Linked DNA regions of Homo sapiens. The protein of the gene in region 1 interacts with the protein of each later gene in a pairwise test. Each region holds a gene or a part of one and is shown in the gene's direction. Other genes may lie near its edges.

Region 1 (2,179 bases):
GGGTGAGCAGTGCCCTCACGCCTGCCATCCCGAACTGGGCATATGCTTCTCCTCAGATCCGCGTTCCAGCCTTCCTGGACCTGTTCATGCAGTCACTCTTTAAACCAGGGGCTCGGATCAACCAGGACCACAAGCACAAATACATCCACATCTTGGCGTACGCAGCAAGCGTGGTTGAGACCTGGAAGAAGGTACCATCGGTTCTGGGAATTTGTGGATTTTTTAGGAGACAAATATCCTCCTCTGCTTTGATATTATTTTGGAATTTTGGCTGCAAGAAATCTTGACCCTCCCTAGTATCAGGCATGTGTTTTCTTGTGTTTCTGCGTAGAGAAAGCACTAAACGTCTCCAGAAAATGTGCGTAATGTCTCCAATGCTCTGCAAACCGTAAATTGAAATGTGACTAAAGAAATGAAACTGATTTCCGTAAGACATGGACAAACACTAGTCTCATTGCTTTTCAGTTTCTGTACACTGTGTGACTGTGAAGTTTGACAGCTGAATTGACTCCCAACTTAAGTAGAAATAGGGAAAGTGCTTTGCAAGAAGTGGCCGACACCAGAACACCCCGACAGCAGGGATATCTGCCCTGTCAGGCTCACCAGCTTGTGTGTGTGTTTTCAGAACAAGCGAGTGAGCATCAATAAAGATGAGCTGAAGTCAACGTCAAAAGCTGTCGAAACCGTTCACAATTTGTGTTGCAACGAGAACAAAGGGGCCTCTGAACTAGTGGCAGAATTGAGCACACTTTATCAGTGTATTAGGTAAGCAAAACGAAACTCAGTTCTTAAATCAGTCCTTTGGGGAGGAGGTCGTTTGAGTTTTCATATTGAAAGCTCAAATAACAAAAGCTTCAGCGATACTTGTTCATTTTATTTATTTTTTCATTTTTAAACAGTATGTAGGGAACTTTAAACAGCTTTAGCAGCATGAGTAATTTTCAGATGTTTATTTGCCAGAAGTCTGTTGAGTACAAATTAGGCTAAGTAAAAGATAGCCAGAGTTAACAAAAATTGATTTGAAGGGTCTATTTATAGGTAAAGTTATGCCCACAAAGTATTGCTTACATAGAAATGATTTGTGATTATGCCAATCATATAAATAGACGTGTCCTAGAAATAGTGTGTCCTCTTAGGCATGTCTTTCCCCTAATAATTTATACTAGGGATGAAGAAAGAGTTTGCTAAATAAAGGTAAACTTCAACCCAGTCCACCAAACTCACTGAGTATCACTCATTAATGATCTTTTCCTTTCGATAAGTGGTTTAAAGTGAGCAGAGAATTGAACTCTGCTTCTTGCACCGCATGTTGAGTGGCTGCTGATCCATTCACACTATTTACTAATAAGCAGAGCTTACGCCAGGCACAGTGGCTCTGGCCTGGAATCCCAGCAATCTGGGAGGCCAAGGCAAGAAAATAGTTTGAGCCCAGGAGTTTGAGACCAGTCTGAGCAACATGGTGGACCCTCTCTCTACAAAAAATTAGCTAGACATGGTGGCACTCACCTGTAGTCCCAGGTACTCGGGAGGCTGCAGTGAGCCATGATTGTGTCATTGTACTCCAGCCTGGAAGACAGAGTGAGACCCTGTCTCAAAAAAAAAAAAAAAAAAGGGTTGGGGGGCGTATTGAAGGGTGAATGATGGAGTCATTTGAGTTTGTTTTTAACTTTCCTTTAATGCTTTTCTAGCATATTTTGTGTTTTAAATTGTTTTTTAAAGGAAGCATTCTGCCTTAACTGTAGGTTTCCAGTGGTAGCAATGGGTGTGCTGAAGTGGGTGGATTGGACTGTATCAGAACCAAGGTACTTTCAGCTGCAGACTGACCATACCCCTGTCCACCTGGCGTTGCTGGATGAGGTAAGAGGGCGGAGAGCTGTTCACAGCCTACACAGTGTCTGTCTCATGCTGTTTACGTTGGCATTAACATTGCATCTATTCAGTGAGTTTAGAGGATACTCTTCTCAAAAATAGTTATTTCTGTCCTGAGGATTTTCCTCTTAAGGACCTAGCTTCATTGACTGCAGAAATTTCTTAACCTCAGTCAAGTGTTACTGGAAGCTGATGGCCCTGGCTTAGGTGTCAGGACCTTCTTCCACAGTGATAAGCTCTTTGGTGGCTGTGACAGTGCCCAGTTTCTCTGTGTGCTGAGCGTGACCACACTGCTCAGCGAAGCTCCCTC
Region 2 (3,500 bases), on another chromosome or scaffold:
TTCTGTCAAAGTATTTGTCTATCCTTTCATAATGCAGCATTTATTCCGATCTGGCATTTAGGATGTAATTATTAAGGTAATGAAAATGCCTTATATCTTTTCAATGAAGGTTGCCACAGTTACCAGACTATTCTTTCACTCTTTCTGATATGCAAATGTATTTGTAGACCATGAGAAATGAAAGTATACATAGGAGGGTTGTAGTATAATTGCTCCCCTGTGAAGAACATTGTTAACAGCTCCCTGCCAGTTTTGAAGGTCATTTCCTCGTAAATGCAGATCTGGTCTACTCATCTGTTTTTCATTCATCTGTTTCATTTATGGAGATACATATATATATATATATATAATATATATATATATATATATATATATATATTTACCACATTTATCAGCTTACTTTGTTATTTGGAGAAAATAGGGAAAATTAAAAAATGAAAAGATAACTAATATCTTTGAACTCAGTATACTGAAGGAGTCATTTACGTGCTTAGGCATGTAATATCCTAAGGAATTTTTATGTTTTTAAGAAACGGGATCTTGCTATGTTGCCTAGGCTGGACTTGAATTCCTGGGCTGAAGTGATTCTCTCGCCTCAGCCTCCCAAGTAGTTGGGACTACAGAAGTGCACCACCATGCCCTGCTTATAAGGAATAGATTATTTTATTATTATTATTATTATTTTTGAGGTGGAGTCTCGCTCTGTTGCCCAGGCTGAAGTGCAATGGCGCAATCTAAGCTCACTGCAACCTCTGCCTCCTGGGTTCAAGCGATTCTCCTGCCTCAACCTCCCGAGTAGCTGGTATTACAGGCACCCACCACCATGCCTGGCCAATTTTTGTATTTTTAGTAGAGACGAGGTTTCACCATGTTGGCCAGGATGGTCTCTATCTCTTGACCTCGTGATCCACCCGCCTCGCCTCCCAAAGTGCTGGGATTACAGGCATGAGCCACTGCACCCGGCCAGGAATAGATTTTGAACTATCTTTCAGCTTATAATAGTTTATAAATTATGAGAATATATATTGCAACATTTCTAATAGAAATATGTGTTGAAAAAATACCTATTTTCAAGTCAGAAATGTTAATCAGTTTTTTGTGATTACTGAAAGGTGAGCTACTCTAGAAATGAATTTGATTTTACTGAGAGACATATTAAAATAATGGATTAAGCAGCCAGGTTAAATTGTGCAGTTAAATAAGATACTACCATAAATAGAATGTGTGTGCAGGGGCATTTCCATAGTATAACCAATATTTGGATTTGATTGTGGCTCAACCACTTAGTAGCTGTGGTAGCTAGGGTGAGAGAGGGAGGGAGAGAACAAATGTATTGAGCCCTGTGCTTGCCAGGCACTCTAGAGTTTATAATAGATTAAGAGAAAGCTATAAATCATAAACCCTAAGAATTATCACATCTAGTTCGATGCCTTACATAGTTTTAATTCAATAAATATTTGTTCTAATTTGTTTGTGCTACATGATTGCTATGTTAACTTCACTTCAAATTTTCTTATTCCTGAAAACAATAAACAGTTCTAACACCTGTATAACTCTTTATAGTTTTAATCCATTCCATTACAAACCGTTTTGCTGTGTGACCCCTCTCCCGGGTGAGAAGTACAGTATGTTAGTGTGGTATTTATGAGGTCTTTGAGGTATTTATGAAGTCAATTTCTGCAATTATCCTTTGTTGAATTAGTGGAGTGCCAGTTGGTATAGCTCCTATGACTTTTTGGTTTGTCTCTTAGGATTTCAAAACTTTCAGGTCCCCCTGCCTCCATCTCTGCAAGTTTAGAGGGCTTAGATCAAATGAATACTGTGTGATGCAGTACTTCATGGAGTGTTAGAGTTCTGCCAGAATTAGGATTTTGGATGTAGGGATCACCATAGCTACAGAAGTTTCCTTCACACTTTTCCCCTTAGTACCCCATAAAAGAGGAGACAGACCTCCTCACAGCCTCATTTTCTCACCTCTTGCTCCAAGAGGAAGTGGACCATGCTTCCCATCCTGTTTCTAGTTATATCTATTTTAAGTTGAATTCACCTTTGATAGCCTCATCTATAACATCCTGTCTGACTCTGCGAGTTGCTCGTCTCTCAAATGTGTCTAGTTAAGGCTTGTACTAAAGAAGTGAATATCATGGAGGATTGGCAGCAACCTTATAGCTTCTGTTTCTCACTTCTGTAGTGCCCAGGAAGGACAGTGCTGCTTTCCTGGAGGCCAGGTGATGGTTGTTGCCCCTGTTTTCTGGTCTTGACTTTTTGGGGCTTAGGCCAACCACCTCAGTGGTTTTCTTATGCAGCTGGGAAATTTGAAGGGTACTAAAGCATCTCCATTCCCATGTTGCAGGGAGAATGGTGTTTCCCCTAAGACAGCAAATCGCCAATTCATATGTCTATCCTAGCAAATGAAGCAGGTCTTCCATTCCTTTTTAAGACCCTAGACCCTGGTGACCAATAAAACTCTTTGGACTTTTGGCTAGACATGGTGGCTCATGCCTGTAATCCTGGCAATTTGGTAGGCTGAGGTGGGAGGATCACTTGAGATCAGGAGTTTGAGACCAGCCTGGTCAACATGGTAAAACCCCCGTCTCTACTAAAAATACAAAAATTAGCCAGGTGTGTGCTGTTACATGCCTGTAATCCCAGCTGCTCGGGAGGCTGAGGCAGGAGAATTGCTTGAACCCGGGAGGTGGAGCTTGCAGTGAGCCGAGATAGCACCATTGCACTCCAGCCTGGGTGGCAGAGCAAGACTCTGTCCCAAAAAAAAAAAAAAAAGTCTTGACTTTTACAAGCACTGTAAATACAGGTAGAGCCAAAGATAAACCAGGGGGAACAGAGGGTCTAAGTTCACATACTCCCAACCTCCAGTTTCTCCATCAGGCTAAAACTGTCTCAGAGAAATTTAAATTATGGACCTTTTGCCTCCCAAGGTCAACATGTGATCTTCATTATTGTTGTCAACATTTTGACCAAGATAGGCCCCTATATTGGTCTTTCAACAGTTGTAATTGTTGTATTATTTCTAAAGATTGTGTTTTACTTTTGTGGTCTTACCAACTTTCTAGTATCATATCCTAGATTTGGGAGGCAGGAACTTGTAAAGACTCTTAGGTTCAAATTCCCCAGGCTTTTGCCTGCTACCGTTAGACTAAACACAAACTTGTGTGAATCAAGTTCTCTAAAGAGATCCTTCCGTGCCATGCTCATGAAGGCAAAATAATTGGGCCACATGCTTGGCAACCACTGAGTTTGTGTACAATAGCTCCATTCACTTGTCTACAGAAAACACCCCTTTGACAGTGATTATAGCTTTCAACCCCCCACCCTTCCACTTCTGACTCCCCGAATTACCATGACCTCATCTGCTGCTTCGTATTTAGAGGTGCTCTGGACCACTCCAGAAGTGCCTAGAACTCATTCCTGTGTGTTAAAGATCAGTTCAAAGCCTCAGACAACCACTGCCCACCAAGAAAAACCATTCAAAATCAGGACCA
Region 3 (3,500 bases), on another chromosome or scaffold:
CTCCCCACTTTGCCCTCTAGGCCTCTGTCTCCTTTTTTCTGACTTGAGGATGATAGTGGTATTAATATCCAGCTCACAGAATTGTGATGAGCAGTACATGAAATGCATGGAAAGCAGTTAACACAGCATTCCCTTCCCCCTCCAACTTCTCCTGGCTGCAAATTAATCACCTCATCTGCATCCTGGGCCTCTTTTGAATGCACATGCTGTTAGAGCGCTTCTCACATTGTATTAAAGTTAGTCATTTATGATTCCATTTTTCCCACTGACTGTAGGTTCTCAAGAGTAGGGTGTACCATATTTCTTTTACAACCCCAGCACCAAGCAAAGCACCTGCTACTTCGTCGGTATTCATTGTTCCGGCTATGAAAGCTTAGACTAGGAAAGGATCTTGGAACAGTCTGGTCCACTGGTTCCTGAATGCCCGACCGTGGACCTGCAGGAGCAGAATCACCCAGAAGTGTGTTGAGAAACAGATTCCGTAGGCACATCCACAGAGACAGAAAGTGGATCCTTGGGCCTTGGAGTTGGGGTGGGATGGATGGGAAGTGACTGCTGATGAGGATGAGGTTTATTTAGGGGTTAAGGAAAATGTTCTAAAGTTAGATTGTAGTGATATTGCACAACTCTGTAAATACCAAAACCATCGCATTATATGTTTTAAACAAGTGAACTTTATGGTATGTTAATTGTATCTCAGTAAACCTGTTAGGAAAAAAAACAGGCCGGGCGCAGTGGTTCATGCCTGTAATCCCAGCACTTTGGGAGGCTGAGGCGGCTGGATCACGAGGTCAGGCGATCGAGACCATCCTGGCTAACACGGTGAAACCCTGTGTCTACTAAAAATACAAAAAAAATCAGCCGGGCATGGTGGCGGGCACCTGTAGTCCCAGCTACTCGGGAGGCTGAGGCAGGAGAATGGCGTGAACCTGGGAGGCGGAGCTTGCAGTGAGCCGAGATCGCGTCAGTGCACTCCAGCCTGAGCAACAGAGCAGGACTCTGTCAAAAAAAAAAAAAAAAAAACAGATTCCAGAGCCCTACCCCACTTACTGGGGGAAAAACTCTCCCAGAGTATAGCATAAGAATCTGCTTTTTAAAATAAGCTTTCCTGTGATTCTGAAGCAGAGCTGGGCTGGAGAACCACTGGCCTGCTTTTCCCACCGTGAAGAACACTGTCCTTAGCATCCCTGACAAACGATGGCGGAGCCCGTTCTGTGCCAGATGCTGAGCCATGGCTGGTGTGTGCTGCTCCGCAGGCCTCTGGCGGAGCCCATTCCATGCCAGATGCTGAGCGATGGCTGGTGTGTGCTGCTCCACAGGCCTGGTGGAGCCTGTTGTGTGCTGGACGCTGAGCAATGGCTAGTGTGTTCTGCTCCGCAGGGAGCTGACTCCTACTTGTCTGTGACTCCCATCGATCAGTTCTGCCTTCAGGTAGCAAAACAGAACGGATCTTCCCTGCCTTCTGCTTGTCAGCCCTTCTGCTGCTGGAAACAGCTGCCTGCTCCTTGACCACACTGTCCCAAGAGGCTGCGATGACGTCCAGCTTCTTCACTGGTCAGTGGCCCTCTGGTCATGCCCTCCGTTCACACAATCCATCTTTCCGTCTGCACTCAGAATCAAATGCAGGAACTTGGATGTGGTCTACCCAAGTCCCTAGACCTAACTGTCACCCACGCCATTTCAGTCGGTGTAGCTGGAAACACTGGTAGCTTTTGAGGGGCACCAGGTCACTGGCTTATGTTGAGATTGCTGGTCATCCAGACCTGCCCCCTACGCTAATCATACAGTGATTTTTCTTTTCCCAGATTTTTAATTTGAAAATGTACATACATCCCCCCAAATTGGAAAAGGATACGTTGGACACCTGTATTCCTTCTACTTAGGTTCAGCTGTTGCTGCTCTGGAATATTCTCTCTCGCGCACATGCGCTCTTTGTGTGCGTGTGTACCGTACATCCCAGCGACTGTGACAGCTCAGAAGACATCAGCAGGCCTGTCCTGAGAATGACATTCTCCTCCACAGCCACAGTGTCATTATCATACTGATTACACATCATAGTCATCCCATAATGTCACCTGAATGATAACATTATGGGAGAGATTCAGATGTAAGCAGCCACGCCCCTCCTGTGGGAACTCAGGCCACACTTGAATTCCACATGTCACTGTGCAAAGTGACTTTTACTCTGTGGGGATGTCAGTGATCCAGCCTGCTGGCTTCTCTGTGAACCCAAATTCTGTTATCAGAATGGACCCTCCCCACTTTGGGTCATGGGCAGATTTGATCAGTTTCCCCATTGAGTCATTGATGAAGATGTTGTGAGAATGATCCCCAACCCTCTGTGCTAATACAGAGCACTCCGTCTGCTTTGGTGTGTTTAATTATTGATCCAGCCACAAGTGAGGAGTGGAAGTTGTGATTTGAAAGCTGTCACCAAGAGATTTGGGGGATTCAGTAACAAAACTGCAGGAAGGTAGACAGGTCTGCAGAATGTGGACATAGTGGGAAACGTCTTCACATTAAGGGCAGTGTGACTAAGGAAAACACAAGGTTAGGAGACTCAGGCCTGCCATGTTGTGCTCTAAACTGCAGCCTCTGCCTCCTGGGTTCAAGCAGTTCTCCTGCCTCAGCCTCCCGAGTAGCTGGGATTACAGGCATGCGCCACCACGCCCAGATAATTTTGTATTTTTAGTAAACACGGGGTTTCTCCATGTTGGTCAGGCTGGTCTTGAACTCCCAACCTCAGGTGATCGTCCGCCTCGGCCTCCCAAAGTGCTGGGATTACAGGCGTGAGCCACCACGCCTGGCCAACACTGTGTCTTCTTTAAGCCTCCAACAACCCATGGAGGGGTGGGGTGGGGCATCGGCTTCAATACACAAAGGAGGAGACACCAGGAAAGCAAGGGGCAGGCAGAGGTGATGCAGCCAGCAGCCTTAGCCTTGCTTCTGATGAAGACCAGGTCCTGGGGGGCTCCCGCGGACCTGATCCCAGGGAATCCTCCTATGGACCAGGTCCCGGAGGCTCCTCCTATGGACTAGATTCCAGGGAATCCTTCTACAGTCTAGGCTTCAGGGGCTCATCCTATGAACTAGATCCCGGGGAATCTTCCTATGGACCGGGTCCCGGGGAATCCTCATACAGACCAGATCCCGGGGAATCCTCCTATGGACCAGGTCCTGGGGGCTCCTCATACAGACCAGATACCAGGGAATCCTCCTATGGACCAGGTCCCAGGGGCTCCTACTATACACATCAGGTCTGGGAGTTGGGGCTCCTCCAGTGGACCGGGTCCGGGGTGGGGGTTCTCATATGGACCGGGTCCCAGGGGGCTGCTGCTATGGACCAGGTCCCGGTGGGGGCGGGGTGGGGGTGCTGTTGCTACAGACCAGGTCCCGGGGGAGCTGCTGCTACGGACCAGGTCCTGGGGGGGTCTGCTCCTATGGACCAGGTCCCGGGGGTACCTGCCCACCACCAATTTGCAGGGTACATCTTCTAGTTC
Region 4 (2,611 bases), on another chromosome or scaffold:
TGCTCTATGGACTCAGCAGCAGCAGGAAAGGTGGGCGGCCTCATGTCAGGGAGGAGATGGACTGAAGCAACAGCAGTTTGGAGCAGGGCTAGCCCTGCAGCAGGACTTCCTGACACCATGGGGGTCTGGCCTGCCTGAGTCACCCTCCTCTTCCCCTAACAGGGCATCGTGAAGCGGGATGAGCTGGTGTTCCGGATGGTCCGTGGCCGCCGGGTGCCCATCCTTATGGTGACCTCAGGCGGGTACCAGAAGCGCACAGCCCGCATCATTGCTGACTCCATACTTAATCTGTTTGGCCTGGGGCTCATTGGGCCTGAGTCACCCAGCGTCTCCGCACAGAACTCAGACACACCGCTGCTTCCCCCTGCAGTGCCCTGACCCTTGCTGCCCTGCCTGTCACGTGGCCCTGCCTATCCGCCCCTTAGTGCTTTTTGTTTTCTAACCTCATGGGGTGGTGGAGGCAGCCTTCAGTGAGCATGGAGGGGCAGGGCCATCCCTGGCTGGGGCCTGGAGCTGGCCCTTCCTCTACTTTTCCCTGCTGGAAGCCAGAAGGGCTTGAGGCCTCTATGGGTGGGGGCAGAAGGCAGAGCCTGTGTCCCAGGGGGACCCACACGAAGTCACCAGCCCATAGGTCCAGGGAGGCAGGCAGTTAACTGAGAATTGGAGAGGACAGGCTAGGTCCCAGGCACAGCGAGGGCCCTGGGCTTGGGGTGTTCTGGTTTTGAGAACGGCAGACCCAGGTCGGAGTGAGGAAGCTTCCACCTCCATCCTGACTAGGCCTGCATCCTAACTGGGCCTCCCTCCCTCCCCTTGGTCATGGGATTTGCTGCCCTCTTTGCCCCAGAGCTGAAGAGCTATAGGCACTGGTGTGGATGGCCCAGGAGGTGCTGGAGCTAGGTCTCCAGGTGGGCCTGGTTCCCAGGCAGCAGGTGGGAACCCTGGGCCTGGATGTGAGGGGCGGTCAGGAAGGGGTACAGGTGGGTTCCCTCATCTGGAGTTCCCCCTCAATAAAGCAAGGTCTGGACCTGCCTTCCCAGGCCCTTCTGTGGGGGTGAAGGTGGGGAAGGCCTGCGGCGCCCAGATCACTGCCTTAGCAGTAGTCTTGCCTGTTCAGTGCAAGGGGCAGGTTTTGGGGGGAGGAATTCTTAGCGCAAGGACGGGCCTCAGCCCTGTCGCCTCCAGGGGGCCGCTGACCCAGGTGGGGAGAGGGCAGAAGAAGGGTGGGGGACGTGGGCAGGCCAGGCTCACAGGTGGAAATCAGGGATGCAGGGTGGTGCCCAAGCCAGGTCCTGCAGGAACCCAGGCCCAGGGAGGGACCCAGACACTGGTGAGGCGGGGCAGGGGTTCCTGGAGAGAGGGCAGCGAGGATCTCTATCCTGGCCTGGGGATTATGAACATAGGTAGCCGGGGCAGGGCCCTGGGTGGGACTGTGGCCTCCACTGGCCTCACCAAAGTGCCTGGGCCCCAATCCTTCTCCATGCCCAGGGGCCCCAGGTGGGCCAGACCTCTGGCCTGTTCCTCAGCCCTACTCATGGGGACATTCAGGGACCTCCAGGAAGTGGGCGGGGGAGCATCCACCCCTGCTAGCCGGCAGCTGTGGCCCTGATCAAATCAGGGGCTGGGGAGGGAAAGTGGGTCCATTGAGGTGGCCCTGCTCCATCAGCCCCCTACGGGACTTGTGTTCATTACAGTGAGGGGGTGCTCCCACTGTCTCCCGGCCTCCCTAATGCTCCCTCTGCTGCAGGGAGAAGGGTTCCAAGATCACAAAATGTCAACAATGCTGGCCTCCTGGACCAGACCCCGAGGCTCTAACAATGCACTCTGAGATCCCTACCCTTGCCGTTGGTCTCTGTCGCTGACTCGAGGCACCTAACATCCATTCACACCCAACACAGGCCAGCGACTTCTGGGGCTCAGCCACAGACATGGTTTGTCACTGTTGAGCTTCTGTTCCTAGAGAATCCTAGAGGCTTGATTGGCCCAGGCTGCTGTGTGTGCTGGAGGCAAAGAATCCCTACCTCCTAGGGGTGAAAGGAAATGAAAATGGAAAGTTCTTGTAGCGCAAGGCCTGACATGGGTAGCTGCTCAATAAATGCTAGTGTGTTATTTCATCTTCTGAGTCCTGTGGAGTTGGTAATGATTCCCATTTCACAGATGAGGAAACTGAGGCTTGGCAGGGGTGAGAAATTTGCCCCAGGCCACACCTCCCAGCAGATCTCAACAGTGGTAGAGCCAGGCTTGAATCCAGCTCTGCCAGATCCCAAAGTAAAAGTTCTCAGCTGCCTCACACTTGGCAGGGGGGTGGGGTGGGGGTGGGGGGTTACTCTGGACAGAGAAGGGTCTAGGATCCCAGGGTGATAAGGTCACTGGGCTGGGGTCTGGGACAGCCTGGGAATGGGTGGGCAGGCACAGCTGGGCTGTGATGGTGGCTCTGCTGCACAGTGGGAGGGGGCCCTGGCAGGGCAGTGGGTGGATGGGGTGTCTTCCAGGCCTGGGGTGCTTTTGGAGCGCTTATGGGGATGGGCTGCCCCGAGATGAGGCTGGGCTGGGGTGGGGTATCCAGGCAGGGGGAAAGGCAGAGCCTTGGCCGGGCAGAGTGACCAGAGCATCC

The links. The genes of interacting proteins can lie anywhere in the genome.
Region 2: the proteins of NELFCD (region 1) and FRMD5 interact in a two-hybrid assay, tested with the Homo sapiens proteins (one large-scale study listed by IntAct).
Region 3: the proteins of NELFCD (region 1) and ENDOV interact in a two-hybrid assay, tested with the Homo sapiens proteins (one large-scale study listed by IntAct).
Region 4: the proteins of NELFCD (region 1) and HDAC11 interact in a two-hybrid assay, tested with the Homo sapiens proteins (one large-scale study listed by BioGRID and IntAct).

The regions. Positions count from the first base shown.
Region 1 is NC_000020.11:58,991,256-58,993,434, forward strand, and holds part of NELFCD (negative elongation factor C/D), read left to right. Parts: intron 1-56; coding exon 57-191; intron 192-625; coding exon 626-765; intron 766-1,742; coding exon 1,743-1,857; intron 1,858-2,179. UniProt on the Homo sapiens protein: Essential component of the NELF complex, a complex that negatively regulates the elongation of transcription by RNA polymerase II.
Region 2 is NC_000015.10:44,188,772-44,192,271, reverse strand, and holds part of FRMD5 (FERM domain-containing protein 5), read left to right. Parts: intron 1-3,500. UniProt on the Homo sapiens protein: May be involved in regulation of cell migration. May regulate cell-matrix interactions via its interaction with ITGB5 and modifying ITGB5 cytoplasmic tail interactions such as with FERMT2 and TLN1.
Region 3 is NC_000017.11:80,418,167-80,421,666, forward strand, and holds part of ENDOV (endonuclease V), read left to right. Parts: intron 1-1,251; exon of another isoform or gene 1,252-1,327; intron 1,328-1,380; exon of another isoform or gene 1,381-2,107; intron 2,108-3,500.
Region 4 is NC_000003.12:13,504,306-13,506,916, forward strand, and holds the end of HDAC11 (histone deacetylase 11), read left to right. Parts: intron 1-162; coding exon 163-378; 3' UTR 379-2,111; downstream 2,112-2,611. UniProt on the Homo sapiens protein: Responsible for the deacetylation of lysine residues on the N-terminal part of the core histones (H2A, H2B, H3 and H4).